Linked DNA regions of Homo sapiens. The protein of the gene in region 1 purifies or fractionates together with the protein of each later gene. This does not show direct contact. Each region holds a gene or a part of one and is shown on either strand. Other genes may lie near its edges.

Region 1 (4,626 bases):
TTAGCTGCATCTTGCCAATTTTCATATGTCCTATTTTCATTTTCACTGGACTCATTCCTCATGAATGGAAAATTTAAAATATTTGCTCCTTTTCACTGTGGTTTCTTTGACTTGTGAGATGTTTAGAATTGTAGTGTTTAATTGACAATTATTGAGGAGTTTTTTAGATTCCTTCACGGTTTCGACCTTAATTTGCATCATGGTCAGGGAGTCTGTATCATTGCTGTCTTTTGAGATCCAGTGAGACTGGCTCTGTAGTCCAGCACATGGTCTGTCTTGGAGAACACTTTGTGTGCTCTTCAGAGAATGTGTACTCTGCAGTTGCTGGGTACAGTGTGCTGGCAATGTCCATTAGGTCAAGGCAGTCAACAGCTGTGTTCAGATCGTCATTGCAACCATATTAATCTTTAGGTCTAGTTATTCTATTCCTAAGAGAAGGATGTTAAAGGATGTTAAAATCGCCAGCTGCGATTGCAGATTAGCCTATTCTGTCAAGCTTCATGGTTCGTGGTCTTTGAAACTCTAGGTATATCCTTTTATTATGAAGTATTCTTTATCTCTGGCATTAAATCTGTCTTCTCTACCATTAATAGAGGCACTCTAGCATCCTTAAGACTAGTGTTTGTATAGAAGTTCTCTTCTCATTCTTTGACTTAGAATCTAACTATGACTTGGATTATTTTTTTGTTAAATGTGTTTATATGTCCTTTTTGCAACACCAGCCTGAGAATGGCTTGGGATTTTAAAATGCATTTCTTGTAGGCAGCATATGGTCGGGTCTTGCTTTTTTATCCAACTTGACAGTCTCAGACTTCCGATTGGAATGTTTAGACTTTTAATTGGCATGTGATTGTTGATAGGGTGAAATTTAGTGTACCATTTTGCCATGTGTGTGTTCTGTGTGTCTCTTGACCCATGAAGCAAAAGGCCCCTGACTGGGGGGTATTGAGATTGAAGGCTGCTGTGTCTTGGTAAACACGACCTTATACCAAGAAGAAGTGAGATTGGCGTATCTGAACCTCTTAATGGGTAAGTGGGCACAAAAACGTCCTGCTCCCCCACAGTGGCAAGTAGAGTTCGTCTGCAGTTTCAACTCCACTGAACTGGTAGCGTTGCTGTGTTAAGAAGGATTCTGAGCCTCACTGGGAGCGGAGCCCCCTGACTAGTCAGAGGACGGATGAGGATACGGGCCACCCCAGGTCTGGGTTGATTGACTGTGGTGGAGAGAGCGTTCTTGTGTATATCTGGTTAGATATTTGGGGATGCCTCTCTGTAGGGAAGGCCAAGCTTCTGAGACGGAGTGCTAGATAGAGGTTGGAGTGCTTGGGGGAGTCATGGCACGAGGTACAATTGACCATGTCTTTGGTGCCAAAGATCTCAAGCATCCGGGAACGCTGGGTTTAGGAAGGAGCTGGTACAGTCCTGCTGTTGGCCCTGAGGATCCTGGCTATGGGAGGTCCAGATGCAGACAAAGGGCCTGCCCCATCCCACGCCACCTGGAGGTCTAAAACTCACCCACGATCTCGGTGCAGTCCTGGGGCATGTGCAGTCCCTTGGCATCTCGGCTCTCCCACGTGGATGCTGCTGTGACCACCTGCTTTTGGAACTTTCCCCTTCATCATTTCGTACGCTTGAGCTATTCTCACATGCATTCATTTTTTCACATGGCTCCCCTTGTTGAGTGAGAACAAAGAAGCACTTAAGACACCTCAGGGCCAACAACCCACCGAAGGAGCGAAGACATCTCAAGCTCCTCGGCCTCCCATCTCCAGTGGTTGCAGGGGCCACCTCACCCACCCAGGTGGTTCCCAGTGGCTCCCACCTCCAACCACCCTCCCACTCGCCTGTGCTTTCCCCTCCCCCATCTGTCTTACCTCTTAGATGGGTTCCAAATCATTCATCCCACTGTGGCAGAATAAAAATGGCCCCACATTCTTTGGTGTTCTTTCCACGGAGAGGTTAGTGGAGCTTGTGTCCCTTGCCTTTGAATTAGGTGTGCCTGGATGGCTTTGTCCAGCAATGTGTGGCAAATGAGACACTGCCCATTCTGGGTCTGGCCTTTAAGAGGACAGGCAGCTTCTGCCTCAGTCTCTGGGGTCCCCCAGCTGCCATGGAAGAAGTTGGAGGTGCCTGCTAGGTGGCCCATGTGGAGAGACTCCCAGACTGCAGGGAAGGCCCAGGTGTACCCATCAGGCAGTAGGTGTTGTGGGGAGCCATCAGGGTTCCTCCAGACCAGCCCCACTGCCAGCCAGAGACCCCCCAAGCAACCTCAGCCAATTCTATATGGAGGAGGATTGGCCAGCCTGGCCCTGTACTAACTCTCTACCTACGATCCATGACTTGTAATAAAGTGGTTTTGAGCCACTGCATTTGGGGTCATGTGTTCTGCTGCAACCATGAGGACCTACAATGCTCATGCACAGCAGCCTGTTGCTGACGGCACGGTGGCCAAAAATCGACTTCAGGCCCCCATTTGACTCCAGATACTATTGAGTTCCCGAACGAAACCAAAAGAGTCTTTCACCAGAATGTAAGGGGCACGAGGGCAGATGGCTTGTCTGGTCATCGCCTCATCTTGGGCCTTAGAGCAGTGCTGGGCTTGGGGAAGGAGCCCAGCGAATGTTTGTTGAATGAATTCATGTGTCAGGGTTTGTTCCTGCGTGGGGCACGTGACCTGTCTCCATCTCACTTGTCGTCTGATCCCTGGGCTCCTGGGGCTGGCTGAGGGTGGATGTCCAACCCCAGCCAGGGTTGAAGGGCCAGGTGGGAGCCGAGAACCCACGGCATTTGTACTCTGTGGCTCAGCTCTCCCCGTGTCTCTGGCAGTGTGTGACTCCCTCCTGTCTGGCACCCCGCCCGCCCCGCAGCCGTGGTACGCAGACCAGCGCTTCACCCTGCCCCTGCTCTCCGTGCTGGTCATCCTGCCCCTGTCTGCCCCGCGGGAGATCGCCTTCCAGAAATACACAAGGTAAGGGCTGGGATGCTGCCTGGTGGGGGCCCCCACCTTGCTGAGTGTTTGTGTCAGGGTTTCTGTCCATCTGGGGTCAGAGGAGCTGGGGAATTGGCCTTCACATTTGGAGAAGGGGAAAACGAAAAAAAAATTATACAAGTAAAATGTATGCATGATGCAAAACATAGATGAGCCTAAAGAAGAAAATGACCTGTAACAACGTCAGTGCTACTCAGTTTATTTCATTGTTGGATTTTTTGCACATGGCTGCAGAGAGAGAGAGACGCCTCCCCACAACACACACCTACCCACACCCACACATACACACCCACCTACCCACACCCCCCCATGCACACCCACCTACCCACACCCCCCCATGCACACCCACCTACCCACACCCACCCATGCACACCCACGTACCCACACCCACCCATGCTCACCCACCCACACATGCACCCCCATCCCCGCATGTCCCCGTGCCCATGCACGCACATGTGTGCACACACACAGAGGTTGTTTTTTTGTGGCTAAGGGTCTGTATACTTAGGAAGAAATAAAGCTTGGAAACAGTATCCATCTCCCTCTGCTGCCTGCCTTTTCCCTGTTGTGTATGAACAATAGACATTGTATAGAAACAGCAGGCAGCAAACCCGAGCCTCCCTCAGGTCTCTGCCCTGCAAGGCTCTCGTGCCACTCAGACCAAGCCAGGGGGCGGCTTGTCCCCTCTCAAGTGTGAGCGAGCCTGCTGGCGTCCTGCCTTAGGCATCAGGCTGAGTGGCTGATTAGCTTTTGCTGGTGGGAAGGAAACACTATTACAGCTGCCATCCCGAAGGGCGCCGGGTGCCATTAAGAATTCTACACATTTGGGCTGGGCGTCACACCTGTAATTCCAGCACTTTGGGAGGCCAAGGCAGGCAGATCACGAGGTCAGCAGTTCAAAACCAGCCTGACCAACACGGTGAAACCCTGTCTCTACTAAAAGTACAAAAATTAGCGAGGCGTGGGGGCGGACACCTGTAATCCCAGCTATTCGGGAGGCTGAGGCAGGAGAATTGCTTGAACCCGGGAGGCAGAGTTTGCAGTGAGCCAAGATTGCGCCACTGCACTCCAGCCTGGGCAACAGAGCGAGACTCCGTCTCAAAAAACAACAACAACAACAAAACAACAACAACAAAACTCTACATCTGACCCCTTGACCCCAAAGCAGCCCTGCCCCACATGCCCCCTGTACAGATGAGGATGGTGAGGCAGAGGTGGACAGCTTGGCCAGCACCTCATTGTCAAGGGCGGAGCTGGGATTCAGATCCCACTACTGTCCCCGTGCATCAACCGCACATGTCACCCACTGCGCAGCCCCTCACACGGTCACTGTGTTAGCATCCTAGGCACTCTGGCTGCCTGTTACCTGGCCCTGGTCATCACCGTGCAGTACTACCTCTGGCCCCAGGGCCTCGTGCGTGAGTCCCATCCTTCACTGAGGTAAGTCTGAGGGAACAGCTTCCGGCAGCCTCGGCGGGGAGGCACGGCAGGGGAGTCTGTGAGGGGAGTCTTGGAGGAGGAGCCTCTCGTGGCTCACTGCAGAGCCTGGGCTCCTTCCTTCCAGTTCTTTCCGTCTCTGATGCGGTGAAGGCAAGGGAGGGCCACTCTCCTTCTGCTGCAGGGACCTGGCCGTGGCT
Region 2 (4,626 bases), on another chromosome or scaffold:
TAGTCTGTTCATATAAAAACACTCACTGTTCCTTGAGCACACTACATTCTCTCCTCCATGCCTGTGCTCATGCTTGTTCGCTATCTGGTGAAACCTCTCATCCTTCAAAGCCTAGGTCAAAAGCCATCTCTTCCTCCTCTACTTCTTCCAGCAGTGAGTCATTATGTGTGCCCCCCTCCCCTTCTATTCTAGCATTTGGTGTATTATGTTATAATGTATTGACTGACCATTCTGTGTCCCTGACTGCTGTATGGATTCTTCTGAGGGTAGGGACATTTTTTAATTCACTGATGCACCCTTCTTCAGAGTTGGCATGTATGTGGAGGGAATGAGCGAAATCTGCAGCACCGTCCCTTTTTCCACAGTATACTATCCACCCCTCTCCTTTTAGCACTGATGTGGTCTCACAGTCTCCATTTCCCCTAAGTCTTATTTTCTCAAAAAAAGTTTTAGCTCTTGGAGGGTAGGAGCTATGAGGGATTAATATCCCTTTCCCTGGTTCAAACTATGTCAAATATTTTTATTGTATACAGTGGGCTCTCCATATCTGTGAGTTCCACATCAGTGGATTCAACCAACCAAATCTAAAATATGTGGAAAAAAAGTTGTGTCTGTACCGAATATGTACACACTTTATTTACTGTACGGCACAACAAGGGTTTATGTAACAATGTATGAGGTATTATAAGTAATCTACAGATGATTTAAAGTATATAGGAGGATGTGCAATGGTTATTTGCAAATACTATAAGCCATTTCAAATCAAAGACTTGAGCATCCTCGGATAGCAGGTCCTGGGCCCAACCCCCCATGGATACTGAGGGACAACTGTATAAAATAATTTTTCATTTTGTTGGAATGGTACATAATGGTTAAGACCACAAGCTCTTCACCCCAGAAAGAAATGGTTCTGAATCCCAACCTTTCCATTTACCAACCTTGTGACCTTGCGCATGTTACTAAACCTCTCTGGATCTTAGTGTCCTCATCTGCAAAATGAGCATAATAGTGGTACTTCCCTTGTAGGATTGTTTTTAATATTAAACAGTATACAAAGAGCCTAGCACAGTGTCTAGCACATGTTAAGCATGCAATAATTACTTTAATTGTAGAGTCACAATTCTGGAAGCCATTCCCCTCAGGATACCTAAGGGATGAGGCAGAGAGGGATCTTGGGACATGGGCAGGGCTGGTAAACGTGAACCAGGAAGGGTATTGTCATTAATTGGACTAAAGATTTGCTAGTCATTTTTCCTTTGAAGATGAGGCTGAATGCTGGAGCCAAGAAAGAGGAACTTCCTAGGCAACTCTAAAGGGGCGGTCAACTAGAGAGAGATGATGAGAGGCAGGACACATACTTCTGGCAATTTAAGGCCCAGATGTGATGCAGGAGCAAAAGGAAAAAAGTGAAGCTTCAGAAGAGGGAAGAAGGCTAGAGATCTAAGCCTGGGAGAGAAGGAGCTTTTTAGACCCTAAGCCAGGAGACCTCCAGGGGAGTGATCAGCAGAGGAGCTGAACTTTGGTGAAGGTTCCTCAATCAGGGTGAGGAACCTTGTACTACGTGTCTTTTTTTCCCATGAGTTTATAGACTTTGGGTTTTCTTTTCCCTTCCAGTCCTACAAAATGTTCTTTCAGGCAGGTTAAGTGATTTGGGAATTCTCTGCATTCTCTGTGGTTGGGGGCTGCCTCAGCTAGTTGGGTTGGGGCAGTGAGGTAGACAGGAGGCATTTACTAGAGAAATGCCAGATCTGTTTACTCTTTCAAGGAATGTGTGCTTGTGTGTGTCTTATTCCTACGGTATATCCTAGCTCAGGGCTGGGCACACAGGAAGCATCCCGAGAGTACTTATTAGATTGAATCTTATTCACATCTAACTGCTACCTTCTACACTAGCCAAGAGGTCCTTCCTTCTTGGCCTGGGGAGGTATTGTCCTGGCCTCTCCACCTCCTGGCTCTTACTTGGTCAGCGATGACTGTCCGGTGCTGATACATTCCAGGGTTAAGCTGCCAACGACAGAACTGGCCTCTCCAGCCACGGGTAATAGTGCCTCCCCCGATGCCACCCAAGGGACAACCTAGAGAAATCAGGGTGGTTAGTGGGGTATTGGGAGAGGAAAATAAGCCCATTTCTAACTTTCTAGACTATAAAGCCTGGTTCCTCTGAAAACCTAGGGGATGGAACAGTGCAATTTGCATAAGCTGGAAGTCTCTTCCTAACTGTGGTAGACCTGGAGGCTAGGCCTTCTCTGAGCAGAGCAGAGATGGGGTGGGGCTCACCATAAATCTGTCTTAGGGGTACAGAATTGATCATGTCGATGAAAGGTGTCTTCTTTTCCACATGGGTCTTCCGGTACCACCACTGCAGGTACCTGAGGAGCAAGAGGCAATGTGAGTGGAAGGGGGCAGGTGGGCAGCTGTTCACAGGCTGAGTCACCTGCCTCTCTCTGTGACCTCCCATTAAATGTCCCAAGGACATCTGCTTTCAAACCTTTCTTCCTCTTGATTTCTATACAGTTCAAGGTCCCTTCATCTTCCCAGTCACCCCAGCTGAAGTGAAGGAGTGGCTTTGTTTCTCTCCTTTGTTCTCCTCAGAAGGGGCTTTCTGATCTCTCCTTACCTCTCTAGCACCACCACCACTGCTTTATTTCCAACATCAGGAGCTTCTGTCTGACGTGCTGAAAGGACCATTTATGGTTTCCTGGCCTACAGCCTCCGCCCCCAATCCCCTACCTCCAAAACAGGCATAGGCTGCTGGGAATAACTTTCTTATCTTTATTTTTATTATTTATTATTTTTTTTTTGAGACAGAGTTTCGTTCCTTGTTGTCCAGGCTGGAGTGCAGTGGCTCGGTCTTGGCTCACTGCAAACTCCGCCTCCCAAGTTCAAGAAATTCTTCTGCCTCAGCCTCCCAAGTAGCTGGGATTACAGGTGCCCGCCACCATGCCTGGCACATTTTTTTGTGTTTTTAGTAGAGATGGGGTTTCACCATGTTAGCCAGGCTGGTCTTGAACTCCTGACCTCAGGTGATCCGCCCGCCTCGGCCTCCCAAAGTGCTGGGATTAGAGGCGTGAGCTACCGCTTCTGGCCTTTCTTCTTTTTAAAATGATCATTTTTCTTTCTAATTATGAAAGGTGAAAGGGGGAAAAAAATAATCTCACCCATAGACAATCAGTGTTTATATTTATTTCTGGACATTTCCTCTCAAGCCTTTTTTTTTTTTTTTTTTAAATTCAACATTTAAACTGTGAAGCTTTCTGATTTTGCTCTTGGTAAAGCCTTCAAAAAATCCCAACATTTTCCTGGGCTTGGTACAGCCCTATATCCAAGAGGCAAATGATTGAGGCTGTTTTCAATAGGCAAACGATTCTGTTTTCAAGGCTCTGACATCTGTCCCAGCCTATCTTCTAATCTTATTTCCTACAAATTCTCATTCCAGATGGGTCCTCACTAAGTAGCCCCTGCCCTGCCAGACTCTTTCCCATTTCCACTCTCCTGCCTACTGCCACATTATGCCTACTGTTCAGTCACACCACTTCTAACCAAATAATTGGGTAAGTAACCCCTAAGTCCCAGTTTCCTCATCTACAAAATGGGGATACCACCTGCTCTAGCTATCTAATGAAATGGTTGAAAGATCAAATGACATAATAGATAAGAAAGCCATAAAGTACAGGTATGATTATTACTCATATATACAAACTGTTATCTCAATTCCTAATCAGACATTGCCTTGTTATTTCAATGTTCCTCATGTGAGGCTGACATACTTTTAAGTTCCTTGGGGAAAGGGACAATGACAAAGACTAGCTGAATATTACCCTCAGGTCCAAGCACAGGGTAGGACATATGGTCTGCAGTCAATGCATATTTGCCAATTTTACAGATGAATGAACATACAAATGATGGGGCACAAGAGAGATAACAGACTGGAGCAGAGGAGAAGAAATGTGATTAATGAATAGGGACAGCGGCCAGGCACGGTGGCTCACACCTGTAATCCCAGCACTTTGAGAGGCCGAGGTGGGCGGATCACGTGAGGTCAGGAGTTCAAGACCAGCCTGGCCAATGTGGTGAAACCCCGTCTCTACTAAAAATACAAAAACATTAGCCAGCTGTGGTGGCAGGCACCTGCAATCCCAGCTACTCAGGAGGCTGAGGCAGGAGAATCGCTTGAACCCAGGAGACGGAGGTTGCACTGAGCTGAGATTGCACCATTGTACTCCAGCCTGGGTGACAAGAGCAAGACTGTCTCAAAAAAAAAATAATAATAAAATAAAAAGGGACAGCACATTCTAGGGGTGGAAAGAAGAGGGAAGACAAAGGATGGGATGACAGGAAGGCAGAGAATCCTCTCTGCCAGCTTAGAGAAAACCGGACTTTGAAACTAGAGACCAGAAAGGACTGGTAGAGGGAGGGTGTGGCCGAGGATTAGGGCAACCAGGGAGAGTAACTGCAATCTATGAGGACAGACAGAACAAAGGACTATCTGGCATGGAACAAGCACTCAATAAATATTTATTGAATGAGTGGACTCTGGCTGGAAGGGAGAACAATTGAAATTGAGTTCTTACGAAGGTAAGACCCAGAGAATTCTGTCTTGCTAGAGCTCCTGGTCAGAGTGCCCAC
Region 3 (4,626 bases), on another chromosome or scaffold:
CTGAGATTTTGAAGTCTGGTTTAAGGTGGATCTTTCAACATGGGGGTTGGTTAAGATTGGTTTAAGTTGGTTAAGATTGGTTAAGATCCTTAATCCCCATGTTAAGGATTGGTGGGCACAGCAGGGTGTGGATTTTGAGGCGAGAGGTGTCAACCGATGCTTCCTGTTGAAGAGTTGGAATGAATCGGAAGGTTATTTGTGTTATGTGTGTTATTTGGAGGAGGTGGGGGAGTGGCCAGTGGTCATCTTCCTCCCAGCTCATCCCCTACTGCGGGGCATCTGAGACCAGTATTTTGCTCTCTTGAGTGTTCTGGTTGTGCTCTGGTCCTGGTACTCTCTCTCTCTCTGTCTCTGTGTGCGTTGGGGTTGAAGGCCAGAAACAGCCAGGTTGAGGCTGGGGCCAGATGTCCCCAGTGAGGCAGGTGCTGGGCCCTAGGTCATCCTCTGTGCCCACTCCAACAGAGTGCAGGAGCTGTAAAGTTAGATTGGTGCAGACAGAGGAAGAGTGAAGTCACGTTAATGTAGACAGTAAGCTGTGTGACGTAAGCCCCGTTTCTCAGCAGTCCAGCGATTGTCTATCTTGTACAGACCTCTTGCCCTCGCCCCAGCCAAGGTTGCCTTGGAAAGGCTGAGGGTTTGTGGACGGGAAGGAGAGTGGGCCTTGGTGTTTCTTGGGAGTGGGGCAGCAGGGCAGATCTGGGCTGGGTAGGGTGAACTCCCCCTCCCCAGGCAGAGGGAGATATTCTAACCGAACCCACGGGGATAGGCAGCCGTGAAGTCCTTCCTCGGAGGAGAGGAGGAGATGAGGTCCCTGTCTGGAAGTCTGGAACAGTTTATCATGAGAGCCAGGACAGGTGGTGGAGAGCCTCAGCTCAGAAGACAGGATGCCTGCATTCCAGACCTGTCTTGTCACTCTGCATTGGGTAGCTTTGGGCAAGTCCCAGTCCCACCTAATCTCCCTATTGAGACCTCAAGCCTCAGTTTCCTCATATGACCAGTAGGAATCCTTATCCTTGCTCTGCCCACCTGAGTCACTGTGAAGGTGTTTTATGAAAGGGTCAGATGCAGAAGGGGCTGGCCTCGCTGACTGCAGCCTCGCAGCTGTGTCTGGGGCTGAGTAGTTTCTCTGATCTCTAGGGGTCCTGCCTAGGGTTGTCTTCTCCTGACCTGCCCCTGTCCCCTGTGTTTTCCCTCCAGGTCTACACCAGCTCTCAGCCCCTGCGTGTGGGGTACTATGAGACTGACAACTATACCATGCCCTCCCCGGCCATGAGGCGGGCCGTGCTGGAGACCAAACAGAGCCTTGAGGCTGCGGGGCACACGGTATGACTGCAGGGTCCTGGAAGTACTGGCATCTCCTCCCCTCACGGGAAGCCTTCCTGGTACCCATGGCTACTCCATCCCTGGCATCCTGGCACTCTGACGATGTTGTCGTCGGGGTGAACTGTGACCCTGTGGGACAAGTATATAGAGGGCTGATCAAGAGTATTGGAGTGAGTGATTGATGGAGAACTTTAGCCCTGTGCTGTGTGATGTGTGAGCACTGCATGTGGGGAGGCTCTTCAGCTCTAAACAGTGGTGCACAGCTGTCCAGAGGCTCCCAGGGCCAGTGGGTTTTGGTCTGGTCATTACACAACTTTATGTGTGGCTCCAGACTTCTCTCATGCTGTGCATTCCACAGTGAGTTTTCATGGGTCAGTAAGGCTGCCTTTGTAGCTCTAGTGAGAGCTATCTTGTGGGCAGGGTTGGTCCAATCCATCCTCAGGGCCGCCCAGACAGCATGGGGATCATGAAGCCAGTTGTTAGGTCAGGAGGCCTTACACCCCTCAATCCCTGCAGCTGGTTCCCTTCTTGCCAAGCAACATACCCCATGCTCTGGAGACCCTGTCAACAGGTGGGCTCTTCAGTGATGGTGGCCACACCTTCCTACAGAACTTGTGAGTGATAGTGGGCTTTGGGGTCTTGGTGGGATCAGACAAGTAGGCAGACCTGGGGGAGCAGCAGGGTGTGGTGATGCCTGGATGGGCCTTAGCTGAATCCAACAAAGGCCTGAGCACTCTGGGCAGGGACCTCGCTGTCCCTCCAGCTGGGCACATTGAGCCTGGAGATCCCTTGCCAGGGTGCCAGCCCGAGGGGAGGCTGGGTTGAGTATCTGTGGCCTACCCCTGATCTGAGCTTGTTGTGAGGTAGGAGGTGGGCAGGAGGTTGCCTCTCTGTTTGGGAAGGATTTGGGCCAAGGGCAGGATCCAGGCAGGAGGGTGGGGGTTTGGACTTGATGCTGTGACTCCAGGCTCTGTCTGACTTGAGCCAAGTCTTCTTTTTGAGCAGGACCTCAGCTTTCTCTCCTGTAAAGTGGGTGGGTTGGACCAGACTCCCTTTAAGGGACTTTGCAGAGCTCATTTTTAGAGAAGTTCGTTCCTCTGGGATGCTTCTAGTCATTAAAGGTGTCAGGGGCAGAGAACAGGCCTGCAAAGGTGCCTCCTGGTGACATACCTCTGCTGGATGGACTGGAACCCTTCAGAACACAGTCCCCCTTCCTCCACTTCACTGATGGAGAACTTGGCCCTGCAGCCTGGAGCTTGGCCCTGCAGCTTCACTCAGTCAAGGGCCCAGCCTGTCATGTTCCTTTCCTTCCCCTAGCAGCCAAGTGTGGTCCAGGCTTCAGTGGAAGGGGTCACTCCTCACTCTGGCCCTGGGAATGAGTCCCCAGGATCAGCTGCCTGAGACCTTTCCCTGAGATCTTGAGCCAGAGATAGCCTCAGAGCCCTGCTTCATGGGCAGCCCACCCTCGATTTCCCCACCTGTGCCTCCAGGCTGTACCTCCCTAAGGGGAGGTACCCTCAGGGAGGCCTCATCAGGGAGATGTTGCCCTCAGTTCTTAGAGCTCTGAGCTGGGTTTGCTGGAGAGGGATACCCTGAGTCCTGCCTTGGGGAGCTCCCGTGGATGTGGGTTGCAGCCCAGGCATCCCAAAGGATCAGCAGAAACAAACGGCATGTTTGGAAGGAGGGAGCTGAGTCTGGTGAGGAGGAGGTGGACAGGATCCCTGCATAGAGAATGGGATTGCTGTGGGCCGGGCGAGCAAGCTGGGAAGGATGTGGGGATGGGAGTGCCTGGACCGAGCATTTTGTTTCCCAGCAAAGGTGATTTCGTGGACCCCTGCCTGGGGGACCTGGTCTCAATTCTGAAGCTTCCCCAATGGCTTAAAGGACTGCTGGCCTTCCTGGTGAAGCCTCTGGTGAGGGCACAAGGAGTGGAGGGGCTAGGATGGCTGGGGGGGAACCTAGGGCCTCCTATCGCATGATCCCCCATGGCCTCCCTCAGCCTCTCTTGGTTTGGGCAGGCATGGCCTCCTCTTCTCTCCAGTCCCCACCCAGACTGCTCTCCTCCTCTGTCCCCTGCGATCTTCAGCCAACCCGCATGCTGAAAGGGGTGCCGACCTGGGCCCTGGGGGGAGGCATGGAGGGAGGGGTCCCCAGTGGCTTGGCCTGAAGAAGGTTGACGTCTGCCGTGGCCCAGAGCTGAGTCACCGACCCTGCGTCTGTCCTGTGCAGCTGCCAAGGCTGTCAGCTTTCCTCAGCAACATGAAGTCTCGGTAAGGGTTCTTCTGTGTCTAGCTGCCGGCCCCTGCCTGTCCTGATCCGAGTCTGGGTCTGGGTAGTTTCTGACAGGAAAGGACTTGAGGGAAGTAGCCTCTGAGGCTGGAAGTGGCCCAGGCAGGGGGGCAACCTTTGTGGCCTTCAGATGGGACTTTGAAGTTGTCTTGGCAAGGTCCAGTTCTGGCTGGAGAGCAAAGGCCTGAGGGGGACAAGAGGATGGGGGAGTTGGAGGGGAGGAGGTTGACCTGGCTGGGGCATGAGTGGAAAGGACCAGGAAGTGGGGGTTGGCCTGGGCCAAGGGTGGGGCACCCGGGAGAGATGCCACTGTTAGAGATCTGAGCTGACCTGAGCTGCGCCAGGCCCTACTTGCCCCTTAGTGGCTGGGGCTGGAAAAGCAGGGCGTAAACCTCCCTGTTTCATGCCCTGACGTCCCATGGACTCACTCCTTCCCTTACCACCAGGCTTCAGGACTGGCAGCAGCTATGGCCTCTCCCGTGTCCTGAGGGTAGCGAGGAATCGGGCCTGGGCTAGTCCTGGCTCTGCTGTGGAGTCACCAAGTGCCAGCCTGTGCCCCTCTGGGGCCTGATTTTCTCATCCAGACAGTAGGGGTTTGAACTTCCCTCTCAGAGCTCCCATGGGGTTGTGAAGGGTCCACGGAGGGGTGAGATCTAGAGGGTTGGCAGTAGGGGTCTGATGTTGCTGATCTCCGTGGCTGTGACCATCATGGCTGGTGACCACACTCCTTCTGCCCAGTTCGGCTGGAAAACTCTGGGAACTGCAGCACGAGATCGAGGTGAGGCCAGAGCCTCTGGATTGGAGCAGGGTGGTGGGGGGAGGGTGGAGTTGGACAGGGTACCCGCTAGCAGTGTCTCGTGGCCACTGCCCCCATGGGGCTCCTAGACTGGCCTGTCATCCCCCTTCCACTCCCTGGACCACCACTTGGGCCCAGCTCTCTGACCCTTACTTGCCTAGATGCCCATCCTTTGAGGCTGGGTCAGCCCCAGGCTCCTGTCCTGGCCGCCTTTTTGC
Region 4 (3,500 bases), on another chromosome or scaffold:
GGAAAACTCCATCTCTACAAAAAAAATGCAAAAATTATCCAGGTGTGGTGATGCATGACTGTAGTCCCAGCTACTCAGGAGGCTGAGGTGGGAGGATCGCTTGGGCCTGGGAGGCGGAGGTGGCAGTGAGCTAAGATCACGCCACTGCACTCCAGCCTGGGTGACAGGGTGAGACCCTGTCTCAAAAAAAAAAGAAAAAAGCTGCAATGTTTGTTAGATAATAAGAATTATATAACCCAAGATGTTTCTTCTATGGTCTTAGTTGTCAATAAGCTGAAAGTTAATTTAATACTCAAGTATAGCAACTAGTTTGGCCTATGGATCTTGCTATTTTTTCCCTCCCCTCTACATTTTTTTCCTGAAAGTATATATTTGTCTCATACTTGCCCCACATCCTTTTACAAGGCAAGTAATATTAAACTTTGAGAGAGATGATTATTTGCAATAAACAATCTAGTTAATAAATTCCAAGCTAGAATGAACCTATGCAGTAAAGTTAAATTAATAACATAACATCATTTTTCAAAACCATTAGAAGAAATCAGTCACAAGATTACAGTTTTAATTTTGCTATATAAATGTATTAAAGTATTTATTTAATTCATATCATTAATTCATTAACAACAAAGAGCAGGCCATTTAAAAACCAAACTGCATGTCCTCAAAATTATAGAGCTGTTTAACTACTGCAATCATAAGCTACTTAGTCTTACAAAATAAACACACATGCCAGGTGCAGTGGCTCAAGCCTGTAATCCCAGCACTTTGGGAGGCTGAGGCAGGTGAATCCCTTGAGCTCAGGAGTTCAAGACCAGCCTGGGCAACATGGCAAAATCCCATCTTTACCAAATAATAATCACAATAATAATAACATGGACAGGGTATGGTGGCTCACGCCTGTAATCCCAGCACTTTGGGAGGCAGAAGCGGGAGGATCACCTGAGGTCAGGAGTGCGAGACCAGCCTGGCCAACATGCTGAAACCCCATCTCTACTAAAAATACAAAAATTAGCTGGGCATAGTGGCGGGCACCTGTAATCTCAGCTACTCAGGAGGCTGAGGCAGGAGAACTGCTTGAACCCAGGAGGCATAGGTTGCAGTGAGCCGAGATTGTGCCATTGCACTCTAGCCTGGGCGACAAGAGTGAAACTCTGTCTCAAAAATAAAAATAATAATAATAATAATACAAAAAGGCCAGGTGCAGTGGCTCACACCTATAATCCCAGTACTTTGGGAGTCCAAGGTAGGAGGATCACTTGAGCCCCAGAGTTCAAGACCAGCCTGGGCAAATAGTGAGACCTCATCACTATAAAGTCGTAAATAAATAAAATTTAAAAAATAAAAAGAGAATAAACACATGTACACAACCACATACAGTATGTGGCAGAAACTTAGATAATTTGGGTATTAGATAGTCAAACTGAACAGAATGACTTACAGCTCTGGAGGAATGGGTTACATATATAATGCCCCAAATTTATAACTGGAAACAAACTAACAGAGAAAAAACAGCATTATTCATGCCATTAGGCTTCAAAGAGAAAGAACAAAATTTGCTAGTGTTTGTAAACATTTGGGGTAGTTGATTAAAAAGCTTTTTAATTGTCTGGAAAAGCCTACCATATTTCCTTTCAGGAGGCACATTCTGGTAATCTGAGACACTGCATTACTACTCAGCTTTCTGTTAAGTTCTTTCCAAGCACAGCTGACATCCTGTATTTCCTCTAGGCTTTCCAGAGTCATGGTCACAAACCCCTTAAGGAATAAAAACCACATTATGTTTGGAAATAAATCAGCAGCAGTACAATGAAATTCTAACTCTATAATCCTTCAAGACTTAACTGTGCATTTCTTATGAGCCAAAAGTATAACATTGCAGCTAAAAAATTTTTTTGAAACTACATTATTAGAAGAATAGTGTTTATAGATAATTGAAAGTACTATCCTATGTATTGCTGTAAGACTCTATTTAATTCTAACCATTATGCTTTAAGAGAGAATTAAGAATTAAGCAAACCAGAGCCAAGAAAGACAACAAGGTAGTGAAGAATTAAGGAAATGTTGAAGGAGTCAAAGTCAGCTTGGAACGAAAACCTTGGCTGGGTGTGGTGGCTCACACCTGTAATCTCAGCACTTTAGGAAACCGAGGCGGGAGGGTCACTTGAGCCCAGGAGTTTGAGACCAGCCTGGGCAACATGGTGAAATAACCATTGCTACAAAAATAATAATAATAATAATTAGCCAGGCATGGTGGCCTACTCCTACAGTCCCAGCTACTTGGGAGGCTTGAGCCCAGGAGCCCAGGAGGCAGAGGTTGCAGTGAGCCGAGATTGCACCACTGCACTCCAGCCTGGGTGACAGAACTAGACCCTGTCTCAAAAAAAAAATAAAAAGTAAATACAACATAAATTTCTTTAACCTTTTTTTTTTTTTTTTAAGACAGGGTCTCGCTCTGTCACCCAGGTTGGAATGCAGTGGCACGATCTCAGCTCACTGCACCCTCAACCTTCTGGGCTCAAGCAGTCTTCTCACCTCAGCCCCACAAGCATCTGGAACTACAGGTGCGTGCCACCATGCCGTGCTAATTTTTGTATTTTTAGTAGAGACGGGGTTGCCCAGGTTGGTCTTGAACCCCTGGACTCAAGTGATCTGCCTGCTTCAGCCTCCCAAAGTGCTAGGATTACAGGCATAAGCCACCATGCCTGAACAATTTCTTTAAACTTTTGAAGGAGTGTTACATAAGCAAAAATTATTTGTTCTGTAAAGCTTCACTAACAGCAAAAGAATCAACATTAAGAAGATATGGGGATGCATTCAGCAAACAAATATTTATTGAGTGCGCCCTACGTATGTGCCACAGACTGTACTAGGTGCTAGAGATTCAGCAGTAAGTAGTCCTTTCTCTCATGGACAGTAAATTCTAGTGCATGTGCATGTACCTACACCTGTATGTGGGGTTGGGTGGGGGGGTACACAGTAAACAAAAAAGCAAATATATGGAATATCATATAGTAATAAGCGTCACGAACAGGAATAAAGCAGGGCTTAGGGAACAAAGAGTATAGGGAGGAGTAAGCTATTTTAGAGTGATCAAGAAAGACCTCTCTGGTATGATATTTGAGCAGAGACCAGAATGAAGTAAAGGAGGAAGCAACATGGTTATTAGAGGGGAAGAACATTCAAGACAATGAAAGTATGTACAAAGGCCTTGTGTAATAGTTAAGTTTATGTCTGAGGAAAACCAAATAGGTTAGGGTGGCTGAAATAAGAAAGGGGAGAGTGATAAGACATGACGTCAAGAAGATAGCAAGAGGAAAAGCCTATAGGACATTCCTGATAAAGACTGGATTTTGGTTTAACCCATGAAAGAAATTTAAAGCCACTAACACCCTGTTTCTAAGATATTTAATCAGAGATTAAATGACCCATCTGCCAAAGAGGGATTCTTCATTGGATGAGAGTTGAGACTAAATAACTTCTTAGGTACTTCTTAGCTCAAA
Region 5 (3,675 bases), on another chromosome or scaffold:
CTGGTGCTTTATTGCCTCCTGCCTCCCTTTGGCTTTTATCTCCCTACTTGCACCAGCAGCCGTCTCAGCAGTAGCTACATCAGCCTGATGGATAGAGACTTCATGACGTGCAGCAGCTGGAACTTTTGTTTATAAAGCATCTCTTTTCCTCACATTTATTTTGAATTTCTTACGTTTCAACCTATGCAGATTGTCCAGAACATCGTGGGCACAGCTCTGATGATTTTAGTGGCCATTGGTTTTAAAACCAAGCTGGCTGCTTTGACTCTTGTTGTGTGGCTCTTTGCCATCAACGTATATTTCAACGCCTTCTGGACCATTCCAGTCTACAAGCCCATGCATGACTTCCTGAAATACGACTTCTTCCAGACCATGTCGGTGATTGGGGGCTTGCTCCTGGTGGTGGCCCTGGGCCCTGGGGGTGTCTCCATGGATGAGAAGAAGAAGGAGTGGTAACAGTCACAGATCCCTACCTGCCTGGCTAAGACCCGTGGCCGTCAAGGACTGGTTCGGGGTGGATTCAACAAAACTGCCAGCTTTTATGTATCCTCTTCCCTTCCCCTCCCTTGGTAAAGGCACAGATGTTTTGAGAACTTTATTTGCAGAGACACCTGAGAATCGATGGCTCAGTCTGCTCTGGAGCCACAGTCTGGCGTCTGACCCTTCAGTGCAGGCCAGCCTGGCAGCTGGAAGCCTCCCCCACGCCGAGGCTTTGGAGTGAACAGCCCGCTTGGCTGTGGCATCTCAGTCCTATTTTTGAGTTTTTTTGTGGGGGTACAGGAGGGGGCCTTCAAGCTGTACTGTGAGCAGACGCATTGGTATTATCATTCAAAGCAGTCTCCCTCTTATTTGTAAGTTTACATTTTTAGCGGAAACTACTAAATTATTTTGGGTGGTTCAGCCAAACCTCAAAACAGTTAATCTCCCTGGTTTAAAATCACACCAGTGGCTTTGATGTTGTTTCTGCCCCGCATTGTATTTTATAGGAATAGTGAAAACATTTAGGGACACCCAAAGAATGATGCAGTATTAAAGGGGTGGTAGAAGCTGCTGTTTATGATAAAAGTCATCGGTCAGAAAATCAGCTTGGATTGGTGCCAAGTGTTTTATTGGGTAACACCCTGGGAGTTTTAGTAGCTTGAGGCAAGGTGGAGGGGCAAGAAGTCCTTGGGGAAGCTGCTGGTCTGGGTGCTGCTGGCCTCCAAGCTGGCAGTGGGAAGGGCTAGTGAGACCACACAGGGGTAGCCCCAGCAGCAGCACCCTGCAAGCCAGCCTGGCCAGCTGCTCAGACCAGCTTGCAGAGCCGCAGCCGCTGTGGGCAGGGGGTGTGGCAGGAGCTCCCAGCACTGGAGACCCACGGACTCAACCCAGTTACCTCACATGGGGCCTTTTCTGAGCAAGGTCTCGAAAGCGCAGGCCGCCCTGGCTGAGCAGCACCGCCCTTTCCCAGCTGCACTCGCCCTGTGGACAGCCCCGACACACCACTTTCCTGAGGCTGTCGCTCACTCAGATTGTCCGTTTGCTATGCCGAATGCAGCCAAAATTCCTTTTTACAATTTGTGATGCCTTACCGATTTGATCTTAATCCTGTATTTAAAGTTTTCTAACACTGCCTTATACTGTGTTTCTCTTTTTGGGGGAGCTTAACTGCTTGTTGCTCCCTGTCGTCTGCACCATAGTAAATGCCACAAGGGTAGTCGAACACCTCTCTGGCCCCTAGACCTATCTGGGGACAGGCTGGCTCAGCCTGTCTCCAGGGCTGCTGCGGCCCAGCCCCGAGCCTGCCTCCCTCTTGGCCTCTCATCCATTGGCTCTGCAGGGCAGGGGTGAGGCAGGTTTCTGCTCATAAGTGCTTTTGGAAGTCACCTACCTTTTTAACACAGCCGAACTAGTCCCAACGCGTTTGCAAATATTCCCCTGGTAGCCTACTTCCTTACCCCCGAATATTGGTAAGATCGAGCAATGGCTTCAGGACATGGGTTCTCTTCTCCTGTGATCATTCAAGTGCTCACTGCATGAAGACTGGCTTGTCTCAGTGTTTCAACCTCACCAGGGCTGTCTCTTGGTCCACACCTCGCTCCCTGTTAGTGCCGTATGACAGCCCCCATCAAATGACCTTGGCCAAGTCACGGTTTCTCTGTGGTCAAGGTTGGTTGGCTGATTGGTGGAAAGTAGGGTGGACCAAAGGAGGCCACGTGAGCAGTCAGCACCAGTTCTGCACCAGCAGCGCCTCCGTCCTAGTGGGTGTTCCTGTTTCTCCTGGCCCTGGGTGGGCTAGGGCCTGATTCGGGAAGATGCCTTTGCAGGGAGGGGAGGATAAGTGGGATCTACCAATTGATTCTGGCAAAACAATTTCTAAGATTTTTTTGCTTTATGTGGGAAACAGATCTAAATCTCATTTTATGCTGTATTTTATATCTTAGTTGTGTTTGAAAACGTTTTGATTTTTGGAAACACATCAAAATAAATAATGGCGTTTGTTGTATGCAGTGTGATCCTATAGCGTTGCCCAGCCTGAATGGGGCTCCCCTCAGGATGCCAGTGAGCGAGGTTACTTCTCTAGGCTTCTCTGAAGACCACTCAGAAGCCATGTCCAGAGAGAATTAGTCCCTCAGAGTCCCTGCTGCTTCCTGGGTGTGGGGGACAGACTCCCTCAGCCCTGCCTTAGAGGGCAGCAGATGTCATGAGACAAGGATAAGTGGGTAGAGAAGACACTGGGGACAGCCGATCATTCAGAGGACACACGGTTTGATCAGGAGCGGGGGAAATATCTGAAGGCTTTCTCGAAACTTCACGGCATGTGCTTTTATTAACCTGGCTGTTTACAGGAGCTGAAGCTCTTGGGTTTGCGGTGATGACTCTTGAACTTCTTTTTCAACGAGCCCAACTGCTTCTGTGGGATAAACAAAATTCTGATTACTGAGCCTTTCTGATCCCATGGAGAAGGGGCCCTGGAGTGCAGGGCTCTCCCCACCCACACAGCCTCAGAGGTGTCGGTCAAATACCCACAGAGGCTTTCTCCACCCCCGTTTCCTTAACAGCTGCAGGATTAGACCCCGCTCAGCAGGGCCTCAGAGGAGTACAGTGCAATGCCACACACTCATTAGGACCTTGTCCTCTTTTGGCCTTGGTCCTGCTTATCTACCAAAGGCGGGGAAGTCTCCACTCCTGCCCTGATGGCAAAGGCAAAGGTGGTGGCTAGTAATCAGGTCCCTGTGCCCAGGGGTAAGGACAAACACGCCACAGCTCATAGTCTGAGGTAGGAGGGTGTCCTCACAAACCAGTGGTCTTGACCGTGGTCCACAGAGCCTGGCTTCCACAAGGGGCTGGCTGGGAAGCAATGGTAGGCACTCACGGCCTTCCGCCAGCCAGCGGCCTCGGCTTCTATGGTTCTTGTGTGTTGTTGGCTTGGGATTTCACTTGTGAAAAAGGTTCAGTTTTCTTTTTTTAAACAAATGGAAAACCATCACTAGGGGAAGCCACTGCCACACTAACAGAGGAGGTGACAGCTCACCTTCCCGCGCTTCTGGACCAGCCCTCGGTACACGGTCGTCTCTCTCCTGCCCTCATCAGTGGCCTTCTCTCTTGGGGGCTTTGCCTTCTCATCCTCTTTGTCTGTCAAAAAGTCATCAGTGCCATCCCCATCCTCCGTGCTTCCAAGGTCCTTTCTGGTGA
Region 6 (4,626 bases), on another chromosome or scaffold:
TGTATACAAAATAAAAATCTTAGTAATACTCACAATGAATCCAAACACAACTGTGGAAAAGAAACCACCAATGAATCCTTCCCAAGTCTTTTTAGGAGACAACTAAAAAAGGGCAAATAAAATTAAAAAGCTTTACTGCACTCACAAAACTCACAATATATATATATATATATATATAAACTATTTCCTCAATAACTTGTACATCTCTCCTTACTTTTTCTCTTATTGGAATAGTTCAAAACCCTTTTTCCTTTTCTCTGATCTTGATTTACTAGTGAAAATCTCTCTAATAATATTTAAACACATAGTAGGCCCTCAAATATTTGAAATGCTGTGAATATGTGTTTGTTCATGTTAAATGGTCTAAATTTGTTCTGTCTCTCAAAAGAGTATAAACTCTATACTAAAATAACTGTCCCATGACTCTTATGCTAATATAAAACCTGATAATAGTTGGTGTAAGTTCTTGGAATAAGAATGAGACGTATTCATTCCAAGTACACACAGTCAGTATTGACCTGCTATTGGCCAAAAATAGAATCAGTACAACAAAACATGGACATTTTAGCACATATAATTTTCACATATTCCTAATATGCTATATACACACAGACTTCCTTCTGATATGGCAAAATACTCCAGAGCCCCAGATACTGTATTTGCTCAAGTATTGACATATCCTCTCTTTTTTCACAATCTATGTCCATTTCCAAGAAGAAAGGAACATGCTGCACTTCAAAGAAGAGATATTGTTTGTGTTGGATTCAGGCTATTGCTGCCCAGTCAATGGACCATTCATGGAAAGAAATCTGGAAAAAAATCTAGAAGTTAGTGGTGTTGGGGCAGGAGGAAAAGATTCAGGAGCAAAAAGTGAAAGTTGTTGCTCAGGGGAGATAAAGACTGTGATGTGTGGGAGGATTTGGTCATCAGGTCATTAATGAGGGACAGAAACCAAATATCAGAATAAAGTCTCTGAAGTATTAAAATGGGTTATGGGTTAACCTATAGGAGCTCTTCATAGACTTCTTGTCCTGATATTCATAAAGCCCCAAACCAAAACAGTTGGCAGAAATGGTTTCTTGACAAATCTGATAACAATTCTGCCACAGAGAAGGGACAGACACACCTTCTCCTAGGGTAATTCACTATCACTGCCATGAAGTAGGAGCAGACTCAAATTCAAAAGTGCCTGCTGATTATTGTAAAGATAGCTTATCAAATTAAATTGATGCATATCATATCGATTTAGGGGTTAACTGTTCAATTATCTAAGTATATTATACAATTAATCCAGCCTGATAAATTCACTAGAAGGCTGTGTTCAAAATCAGTTGCTAATATTCTTCCACAGCTATAACAGCCTTTTTGAAGGCTTCTGATATGGTTTGGATCTGTGTCTCCACCCAAATGTCACGTCCACTTGTAATCCTCAGTGTCGGAGGTGGGGCCTGGTGGGAAGTGACTGGGTCAGGGAGGGGGTTTCTAATGGTTAAGCACCATCCCCCTATTGCTGTCCCATGAGTTCTCATGATATCTGGTTGTTGAAAAGTCTGTGGCACCTCCTCACTCTCCCTCTTCCTCCTGCTCTGACCATATAAGATGTGCCTGCTTCCCCTTCCGCCAAGATCATAAGTTTCCTGAGGCCTCCCCAGCCATGCTTCCTGTACAGCTTGCAGAACCATAAGCCAATTAAAGCTCTGGCATTTCTTTATAGCAGTGTGAGAATGAACTAATACAGCTTCCCAAGCCGAAAACTTCTCAGTCTGGGTAGAACTCTTGAATACGTAAATCATGTATTCAAGCTTTAGAAACTCTGGAGCAGCTTTAGAAACGTTTTAAAAATATACAGCTTGCTTACCAGTATCCTTATACAGCTCAGCCCAACACTCTCTGTGTGCTGATGCTTTCAGCAGGTGCTCTCTGTGAGCTCCTCCCCAAGAGGGGAAGAGTTTACAGAGGTTTTTGGAAGAACAGGCAGTCCACAAATTCCTCTGGTAATACTAAACTACCCTCATACCACTCTGAACAAACAGAAGGCTTTATATCTGAACAATTGTCTCAGTCCTTCCAAAACTGCATTCATATAACAATATCAAAACAGCCAGGTAATAATATGTCTGTGAGAACATTATTAAAAACTTTGCCCAATAATGTGAAATGTGTGAATCTTATCTGAAACTCCAACATGAAAAGCTCTTTTAGGCCGGGTGTGGTGGCTCACGCCTGTAATCCCAGCACTTTCAGAGGCCGAGGTAGGTAGATCATTCGAGGTCAGGAGTTCTAGACCAGCCTGGCCAACATGGTGAAACCCTGTCTCTACTAAAAATACTAAAATTAACCAGGCATGGTGGCAGCCGCCTGTAATCCCAGATACTTGGGAGGCTGAGGCAGGAGAATCACTTGAACCCAGGAGGCGGAGGTTGCAGTGAACCCAGATTGCGCCACTGCACTACAGACTGGGTGACAGGGCGAGACTTTGTCTCCAAAAACGAATAAAAACTAAACAAAAATAAAGAAGAGCTCTTTTAGAAGAAATCAGTTCTAGAAAATGATTTGATTTCCATGAAGAATTAGTTTATTTCTTCTCCCAAATGAGAACTATGTAATTTAGTTCATTTCCTTCTTTACCATTGCCCATAAATAGAACCAATTCTATAGCAAAACAACATGGTCTACTCATGTGTATTTTCCTTTCCCTTTCATTATTACTTGTATTTTATTAGTATTTTATTGTAGGGCCCCAAAATCTTCTTTTGGTATGAGTTTGGATATGAAAAGTCACACAAATGGATATGAGGATGTGAAGGTGTATTATATAATCTCTTCTTTGAGAAAGTTTGGTAAAGGAGGGGACAGGTAAGGCGACAGGTTGAAGGGAGAGGAGAGTCAAGGAAAAGGCTTGTGTATAGGCTTGCTGGAAAGGAGGATAAAGAAGAACTGCACCAATGGCCGAGAGAAAAAACCACAGAGCCCAGGGGCGGTGGCTCACGCCTTTAATCCCAGTACTTTGGGAGGCTGAAATGGGCAGACTGCTTGAGCCTAGGAGTTTGGGACAAGCCTGAACAACATGGCAAGACTCTGTCTCTACCAAAAATACAAAAATTAGCCGGGTGTGGTGGCATGCACCTGAAGCCCCAGCTACTCGGGAGGCTGAGGTGGGAAGATTGCTAGAGCCTGGGAGGTGGAAGCTGCAGTGAGCCATGGTAGCACCACTGTACTCCAGCCTGGGTGGCAAAGCAAGACCCCATCTTCAAAAAAAAAAAGGAAAGAAAAGAAACCACATAAAGATAAAATGAAGATGAAAAGGGAGGGAGGGAGGGAGGGAGGGAAGGAGGGAAGGAAGGAAGGAAGGAAGGAAGGAAGGAAGGAAGGAAGGAAGGAAGGAAGGAAGGAAGGAAGGCAGGCAGGCAGGCAGGCAGGCAGGCAGGCAGGCAGGCAGGCAGGCAGGCAGACTGATGGAGTCATGCCCTTCCTGAGGAGCCAACAGAAGAGCTGATGAAGAACCCAGATGGAAGTACTGAGAAATATGGTTTGCTGCTTCTGCACCATGCAGCTAAGGAAAATCAAAGCACCTCAAAAATAAAAAATGCACAACAGCACAGTTGTTGGAAATGTTCTCCAGTGGCTAATCTTTAAGGTTACATAGTGGCTTGCTTATAAAATTTTTCCATTACCTTAATTAATGGAGTTCTCCCAAAAAAAAATCCAAAAAGGTAAGCAGTTATGTCATTGCAGATAACACTTGATATTGGAACAAGGAACCTGTTTTTAAAAAAAAAAAAAAAAGTCAGCAGAAAAAAGTTCACCTGAGTAAGTGGCAGATATTCGGAAAGGTTATGATTCATAATGAACCATCAGAATAACCCTTTGGATTGCACTGCAGCCTACCCAGAACATAACACTTGCCAAAACAGTAGAAATGATAAATATCAACCAAATTTGCCCACTTACCAATTTAAACAGAGCAAAATCTAAAAATAAACTAGCATGCTAGGAAAATATTAAATTATTGATTTCTACAGTTATGGATGTTTTCATTTTAGTTTTATGAGGAACATGTTACAATAAAAAATAAAAGGCAGACTGAAAGCTAATCTTAAGAAAACCAGCCTTTTAATATGAAAATGAGTCATTTCTTTAGACAGAACATAATCTGATAAATTTATATCAAGCTCTTAATACATATTCTCAATTATTAATTTTAATTCTATCTTAGCTTATGATTTCAGTAAACCCTACTGAATGTACAGAACCTACTTACTTCAGTAACTGCCCCATCAATGAAAAGTCTGTACAATACATGAAAGACAATCTTAAAATGATTCCAATTACTTTACACACGCACATACACACAGAGACACACACACACAAAGACACAACCACACCCTTGGTAAAAAGACATAAAGCTGTCAAGGGAATACAATTTATCTTGACAAAACCCATCAACTGTAAAAGATTTTAATTAATGAGTTTTAAATGAGTGGGGGAAAAATACAGTCAGATTTTTTTTTAATCTTAAGCTTTTTCTCCATTCCAACTAATTTTTAAGTAATAAGTTTTATAATTTTTACCTAACAAAAATGCTTTCTGAATATGCAAGCCACTGCCATAGAGCAATTAACTTCT
Region 7 (4,626 bases), on another chromosome or scaffold:
CCAGCCTCATTTCACTTTCAATGCTGCCCTGAGAGGGAAGGCTGTTGTCCAATTTCAGGGTGAAGAATGGGGCTCCGAGAGGTGAAGTGGCCCATCTGAACTTTCTCAGGCAGTAGGCAGCAGAGCACCCGAGTGGAGTGGGAGTGACCCGGCTAGCATGGGTGGAGGGGTGGGGGAGGCACCAGTACTCACACTGAAGATGAAGAAGAGCTCGATGAACATGGCGCCGAAGGGCAAGATCCCAGCCATGAGGATGCTGCCACAGAACGAGAGGTTGACATTGTTAGAGACCAGGCCACCAGGAAGCCCCAAGCTCCTTCCCAAGCTGGCATGAAGAGAGAGCACCTACACGAGTGTGGTGGTGCTAATTCTTCTGGCATATTTCTGTACTATTATAATCTCTTGAGAGGTAGGCAGGGTGGGCATTATTCTCCTCATTTTATAGATGGGCAACTGGGGTGCAGAGAGGTGGGGTGACTTGCCCAAGGTCCAAGTGATGGTCTTAACCTGTCTCACTATACCCTTCCATCCTTCCCCTTCCTTGTCCTGGTTCCTAGGATGACACCAAGTCTGCCTACAACCTGGTCACCTTGATCTTGGAGTGAAGTTAAGCTTTCATAAACTCTATTAGAGCCGGCTGAAGCGGCAGGAACTCTGGTTGCCGCACCCTTCTGGTGGCGGAGGGGGGCGTACCCTCTTCCACGTTCCCCTGCTCTTGCCTCTGCTGGAGGACTCACCCCACAAATCGGTTCATGTACCACCGCTGCTCGGGGATCTGCCGGGGAATCTGGTTGGTGCGCACAGGGTTGTCATATGGCTGCTTTCGGAAGCCGAAGTAGTAGCCCAAGTAGACGAGGGGCAGGGAGATCCCGAACCACATGCACAGCAGAGCCACCATGGTGGGAAAGGGCACCTGTAGACATGGCACCATGAGGCCCCCACGAGGCCCTGATGCCCGGGATGGGGGCTGCGCAAGGGGGAGGGGACCTTCTGGGCTCCACAGAAGGAGAGGCGACTTGTGCAGCAGAAGCACACTCCCTGCCCCCACCACAGGGCTCCTGGCCAGAATCTCTTGAGGCTGACCCCAGCCCTGATCTGGACTCCCAGTGAAGAAGGCACCTCAGCATCCCAGAGGAGCTCACCATCCAGGGAGGAAGTAGGGGAGGAACAGGAAGGAGTGGACTGAGAACGTGAAGAGATGAAGAGGTCAAAATGAAGAGATTACATGTGGCACATTATGTGAAGAAAAGAAGGGAAAAAACAACACTGTACAAAGTGCTCCCAATCTTGTCAGAATAAAACTACATGATATACTATTAAGTGTAAAAAGGAGGCTATAAACTATGTGTATAGAAGGATTCCATTTTAATAAAAACACAACATAGTCGGTCCTCTGTATCCATGGGTTCTGCATCTGTGGATTTAATCAACTGCAAACAGAAAATGTTCAGGAAGGCCGGGAGCAGTGGCTCATGCCTGTAATACCAGCAGTTTGGGAGGCTGAGGTGGGCAGATCACTTGAGGTCAGGAGTTCAAGATCAGCCTGGCCAACATGGTAAAACCCAGTCTCTACTAAAATTACAAAAAAAAAATTAGCCGGGCACTGTGGGGGGCACCTGTAATCCCAGTTACTTGGGAGGCTGAGGCAGGAGAATCATTTGAACCTGGGAGGTGGAGGTTGCAGTGAACTGAGACCTTGCCACTCCACTCCAGCCTGGGTGACAGAGTGAGAGAGTGAGACTTCGTCTCAAAAAAAAAAAAAAAGAAAATGTCCAGGAAAAAAAAAAATACAATAAAATAAGCTGGGTACAGTGGCTCACGCCTGTAATCCCAGCACTTTGGGAGGCCTAGGTGGGCAGATCACTTGAGCCCAGGAGTTTGAGACCAGCCTAGGCAACACAGTGAGACTGTATCTCTACAATTTTTTTTTTTAATTGCCGAGTGTGGTGGTGACACCTGTAGTCCCAGCTACTCAGTGGGGCTGAGGTGGGAGGACCACTTGAGCCCGGGAGGCAGAGGTTGCAGTGAGCTGAGACCACAGCACTGCACTCCAGCCTGAGCAACAGAGTGAGACCCTGTCTCAAAACAAACAAACAAAAAATACAACAATACAAATTAAAAAACAATATAGTATAACAACTATTTACATAGCATTTACATTGTATTAGGTATTTTAAGTAATCTAGAGAAGAGTCAGAATATACAGGATGTGTGTACGTAAACACTATGCCACTTTATATATGGGACTCGAGCATCCTTGAATTTTGGTATCTTCAGGGGTCCTGGAACCAATCCCCTATGAATACCAAGGGACAACTGTATCTATTTATATTTGTGCCTGGAAAGGCCTATACCAAAGAGCTAACAATACTTCCTTAGATGGGATATGGGGGATTAGAACTGATTTTTCATTTTCTTCTTTATCCTCTTCTCTACACTTACTTTTTACAAGAATCACATAAAAAGAAATATATATATAAAGTGTTTAGAACAGTATTACTACAAAGCAAGCATCATATAAATGTTTGCTGTTATTTTATAAATTTTAAATTATGTAATTCTTTTGTAAGTATATCTATAAAAAGGAAAAAAGACAACATATATTAAAGACCTACATTGTATTTATCTCTGGGTGAGCAGATTTGGGGTTATTTTAAATTTCTTCTTTAACTTCTCTGCACTTTCCAAAATTTCTACAGTGAATGTTTATAATGAGCAGCTGGTAACTGGGAGGAAAATGCTCAAAGGGAGAAGGAACACAGGGATAAAAAAGGTGAAGTGAGAGGAAGGGCATGACTGTGTCTTGAGGGTGGCTTCCTAAGTTGCTGGGAAAGAAACCCCTCCTCTGTAAGCCTGGACGTGAAGCCTCATGCAAGGACCTTTACCGCCACCCCCAGGTGGAGGGCAGAGGGCTCTACGTGCTAAGGCTAGGATAGCAAAATGCCTGCCACATCTCAACTGCAGTCCTGCTAATTGACCAAGACCCCACTCCCCCTCCCCACAACTGAGTTCAAAATCCTCCTCAGTGAGTCTTGGACAGCTGCTAGTAACACACTGGACTGGGGCTGGCAGGATTCCCAGCTCTAAGGGTAATACAACCTGATCCTTCCTTTCCTCTCTCCTCCACCTGCAGGGGCTGGTGCTGAGGGGCAGGGACACTGAGGAGGACAGGCTTGCTTTGGGATAATGACCTAATAAACTCACACTGGGCAGCTCACTCTTGGTTAAGACAAAGGGAAATTCCCCAGTTGGCCGCTGGACTGTGGAAACCTCCCTTTAGAGAAGTGGGCTTGGGTCAGTTGACTGAAAGATCTCACAGGAAGGCCAGGGCCAGGGCATGACACACCAAGGGCAGGGCTGGGGAAACCCCAGCTGGCCCTCTGCCCTCATGGCTGGGAACGTAACTCTGGGGACTCAGAAAAGGGAAGGGAATGGCAGGAAGTGGCTTTTGGGAGTAGGGCTGAGTGCAACTGGTCCTCGCTTGCTGGGGAGGGGCTGGAAGGGTAGGGGAGGCACTTACCGCTCCTGATGAGTGCTTTCCCCAAATGAAGCAATTCAATACGAAGCAGATGCCAAAAACCACACCAGGGTACAGAGTTGCCGTCTGGAGCAAGAGGGGCCGGGTTGAGGAGCAGCATCCAGGGACCTCCCCTACCTGTCCCGGTGGGGCCCCCAGACCAGAAGCTCTTAAGCCCTCCTTGTCTTTCAGACTCTGCTCAAGCATCATTCCTTCCAGAAAGTATTCCCTGACCCTCAGACTGAGCAGGACTCTGTTCTATGCCCTCTCAGGTCCCTAATACTGCCCCTTCTTGCTCTCATCCCAGTTCGTAATTACATATTTTGGCTACCTGATCAATATCCGCCTATCCCCAAAAGACTGTGAGCTCCTTGGGAGGAGTGTGTCTACCTTGTTCTCTGATGTACTCTCATCACTGAGAACACGGTAACTACTCTGGCCAGGCGTGGTGGCTCATGCCTGCAATCCCAGCACTTTGGGAGGCCGAGGTAGGTGGATCACCTGAGGTCAGGAGTTTGAGACCAGCCTGGCCCACATGGCGAAACTCCGTCTCTACTAAAAATACAAAAAATAGCCGGTGTGGTGGCTCATGCCTGTAGTCTCAGCTACTCGGGAGGCTGAGGCTGGAGAATTGCTTGAACCCGGGAGGCAAAGGTTGCAGTGAGCAGAGATCGTGCCACTGCACTCCAGCCTGCGCGACAGAGCGAGATTCCGTCTCAAAAAAAAGAAAAAAAGAACACGTTAACTACCCAATATATACATATGTAAAAAAATTTTTTTTTTGAGGGGGAGAAAAATTACCTCCAGAATCGCTTGAGCTCAGGTGTTTGAGACCAGCCTGGGCAACATGGTGAAACCCTGTCTTTACAAAAAATTAGCCAGGCGTGGTAGTACGCACCTGTGGTCCCAGCTACTTGGGAGGCTGAAACAGATGGATTGCTTGAGCCCGGGAGGCAGAGGTTGCAGTGAGCCGAGTCATGCCACTGCACTCCAGCCTGGGTAATAGAGCAAGACTCTGTCTCACACACACACAAAAACCCTAAAAAACAACTTTAACAAAACACGTATGTCTGGGCCCCAACCCAAACTGCCTAGAAGGATGGTGAAGC

Evidence for each region.
Region 2: the proteins of SLC38A8 (region 1) and GBA2 purify together in Homo sapiens (affinity purification with mass spectrometry; one large-scale study listed by BioGRID and IntAct). This does not show direct contact.
Region 3: the proteins of SLC38A8 (region 1) and FAAH purify together in Homo sapiens (affinity purification with mass spectrometry; one large-scale study listed by BioGRID and IntAct). This does not show direct contact.
Region 4: the proteins of SLC38A8 (region 1) and DDX50 purify together in Homo sapiens (affinity purification with mass spectrometry; one large-scale study listed by BioGRID and IntAct). This does not show direct contact.
Region 5: the proteins of SLC38A8 (region 1) and SURF4 purify together in Homo sapiens (affinity purification with mass spectrometry; one large-scale study listed by BioGRID and IntAct). This does not show direct contact.
Region 6: the proteins of SLC38A8 (region 1) and CDS1 purify together in Homo sapiens (affinity purification with mass spectrometry; one large-scale study listed by BioGRID and IntAct). This does not show direct contact.
Region 7: the proteins of SLC38A8 (region 1) and TM9SF4 purify together in Homo sapiens (affinity purification with mass spectrometry; one large-scale study listed by BioGRID and IntAct). This does not show direct contact.

What each region holds. Positions count from the first base shown.
Region 1 is NC_000016.10:84,031,670-84,036,295, reverse strand, and holds part of SLC38A8 (solute carrier family 38 member 8), read left to right. Parts: intron 1-2,826; coding exon 2,827-2,968; intron 2,969-4,327; coding exon 4,328-4,429; intron 4,430-4,626. UniProt on the Homo sapiens protein: Electrogenic sodium-dependent amino acid transporter with a preference for L-glutamine, L-alanine, L-histidine, L-aspartate and L-arginine. May facilitate glutamine uptake in both excitatory and inhibitory neurons.
Region 2 is NC_000009.12:35,742,338-35,746,963, forward strand, and holds part of GBA2 (non-lysosomal glucosylceramidase), read right to left. Parts: intron 2,372-4,626; exon of another isoform or gene 2,370-2,371; coding exon 2,278-2,369; intron 2,076-2,277; coding exon 1,960-2,075; exon of another isoform or gene 1,882-1,959; intron 990-1,881; exon of another isoform or gene 956-989; coding exon of another isoform or gene 939-955; intron 1-938. UniProt on the Homo sapiens protein: Non-lysosomal glucosylceramidase that catalyzes the hydrolysis of glucosylceramides/GlcCers (such as beta-D-glucosyl-(1<->1')-N-acylsphing-4-enine) to free glucose and ceramides (such as N-acylsphing-4-enine).
Region 3 is NC_000001.11:46,407,262-46,411,887, forward strand, and holds part of FAAH (fatty-acid amide hydrolase 1), read left to right. Parts: intron 1-1,197; coding exon 1,198-1,323; intron 1,324-1,839; coding exon 1,840-1,937; intron 1,938-3,136; coding exon 3,137-3,236; intron 3,237-3,552; coding exon 3,553-3,593; intron 3,594-4,350; coding exon 4,351-4,390; intron 4,391-4,626. UniProt on the Homo sapiens protein: Catalyzes the hydrolysis of endogenous amidated lipids like the sleep-inducing lipid oleamide ((9Z)-octadecenamide), the endocannabinoid anandamide (N-(5Z,8Z,11Z,14Z-eicosatetraenoyl)-ethanolamine), as well as other fatty amides, to their corresponding fatty acids, thereby regulating the signaling functions of these molecules.
Region 4 is NC_000010.11:68,939,315-68,942,814, reverse strand, and holds part of DDX50 (ATP-dependent RNA helicase DDX50), read right to left. Parts: intron 1,756-3,500; coding exon 1,621-1,755; intron 1-1,620. UniProt on the Homo sapiens protein: ATP-dependent RNA helicase that may play a role in various aspects of RNA metabolism including pre-mRNA splicing or ribosomal RNA production.
Region 5 is NC_000009.12:133,360,274-133,363,948, reverse strand, and holds the end of SURF4 (surfeit locus protein 4), read left to right. Parts: intron 1-189; coding exon 190-456; 3' UTR 457-473; coding exon of another isoform or gene 474-485; 3' UTR 486-2,485; downstream 2,486-3,675. Other genes in the region: SURF2 (surfeit locus protein 2), read right to left, coding at 2,810-2,893, 3,515-3,675. UniProt on the Homo sapiens protein: Endoplasmic reticulum cargo receptor that mediates the export of lipoproteins by recruiting cargos into COPII vesicles to facilitate their secretion.
Region 6 is NC_000004.12:84,634,400-84,639,025, reverse strand, and holds part of CDS1 (phosphatidate cytidylyltransferase 1), read right to left. Parts: intron 3,763-4,626; coding exon 3,675-3,762; intron 103-3,674; coding exon 34-102; intron 1-33. UniProt on the Homo sapiens protein: Catalyzes the conversion of phosphatidic acid (PA) to CDP-diacylglycerol (CDP-DAG), an essential intermediate in the synthesis of phosphatidylglycerol, cardiolipin and phosphatidylinositol.
Region 7 is NC_000020.11:32,154,081-32,158,706, reverse strand, and holds part of TM9SF4 (transmembrane 9 superfamily member 4 isoform 1 precursor), read right to left. Parts: intron 3,605-4,626; coding exon 3,521-3,604; intron 914-3,520; coding exon 738-913; intron 257-737; coding exon 193-256; intron 1-192. UniProt on the Homo sapiens protein: Associates with proteins harboring glycine-rich transmembrane domains and ensures their efficient localization to the cell surface.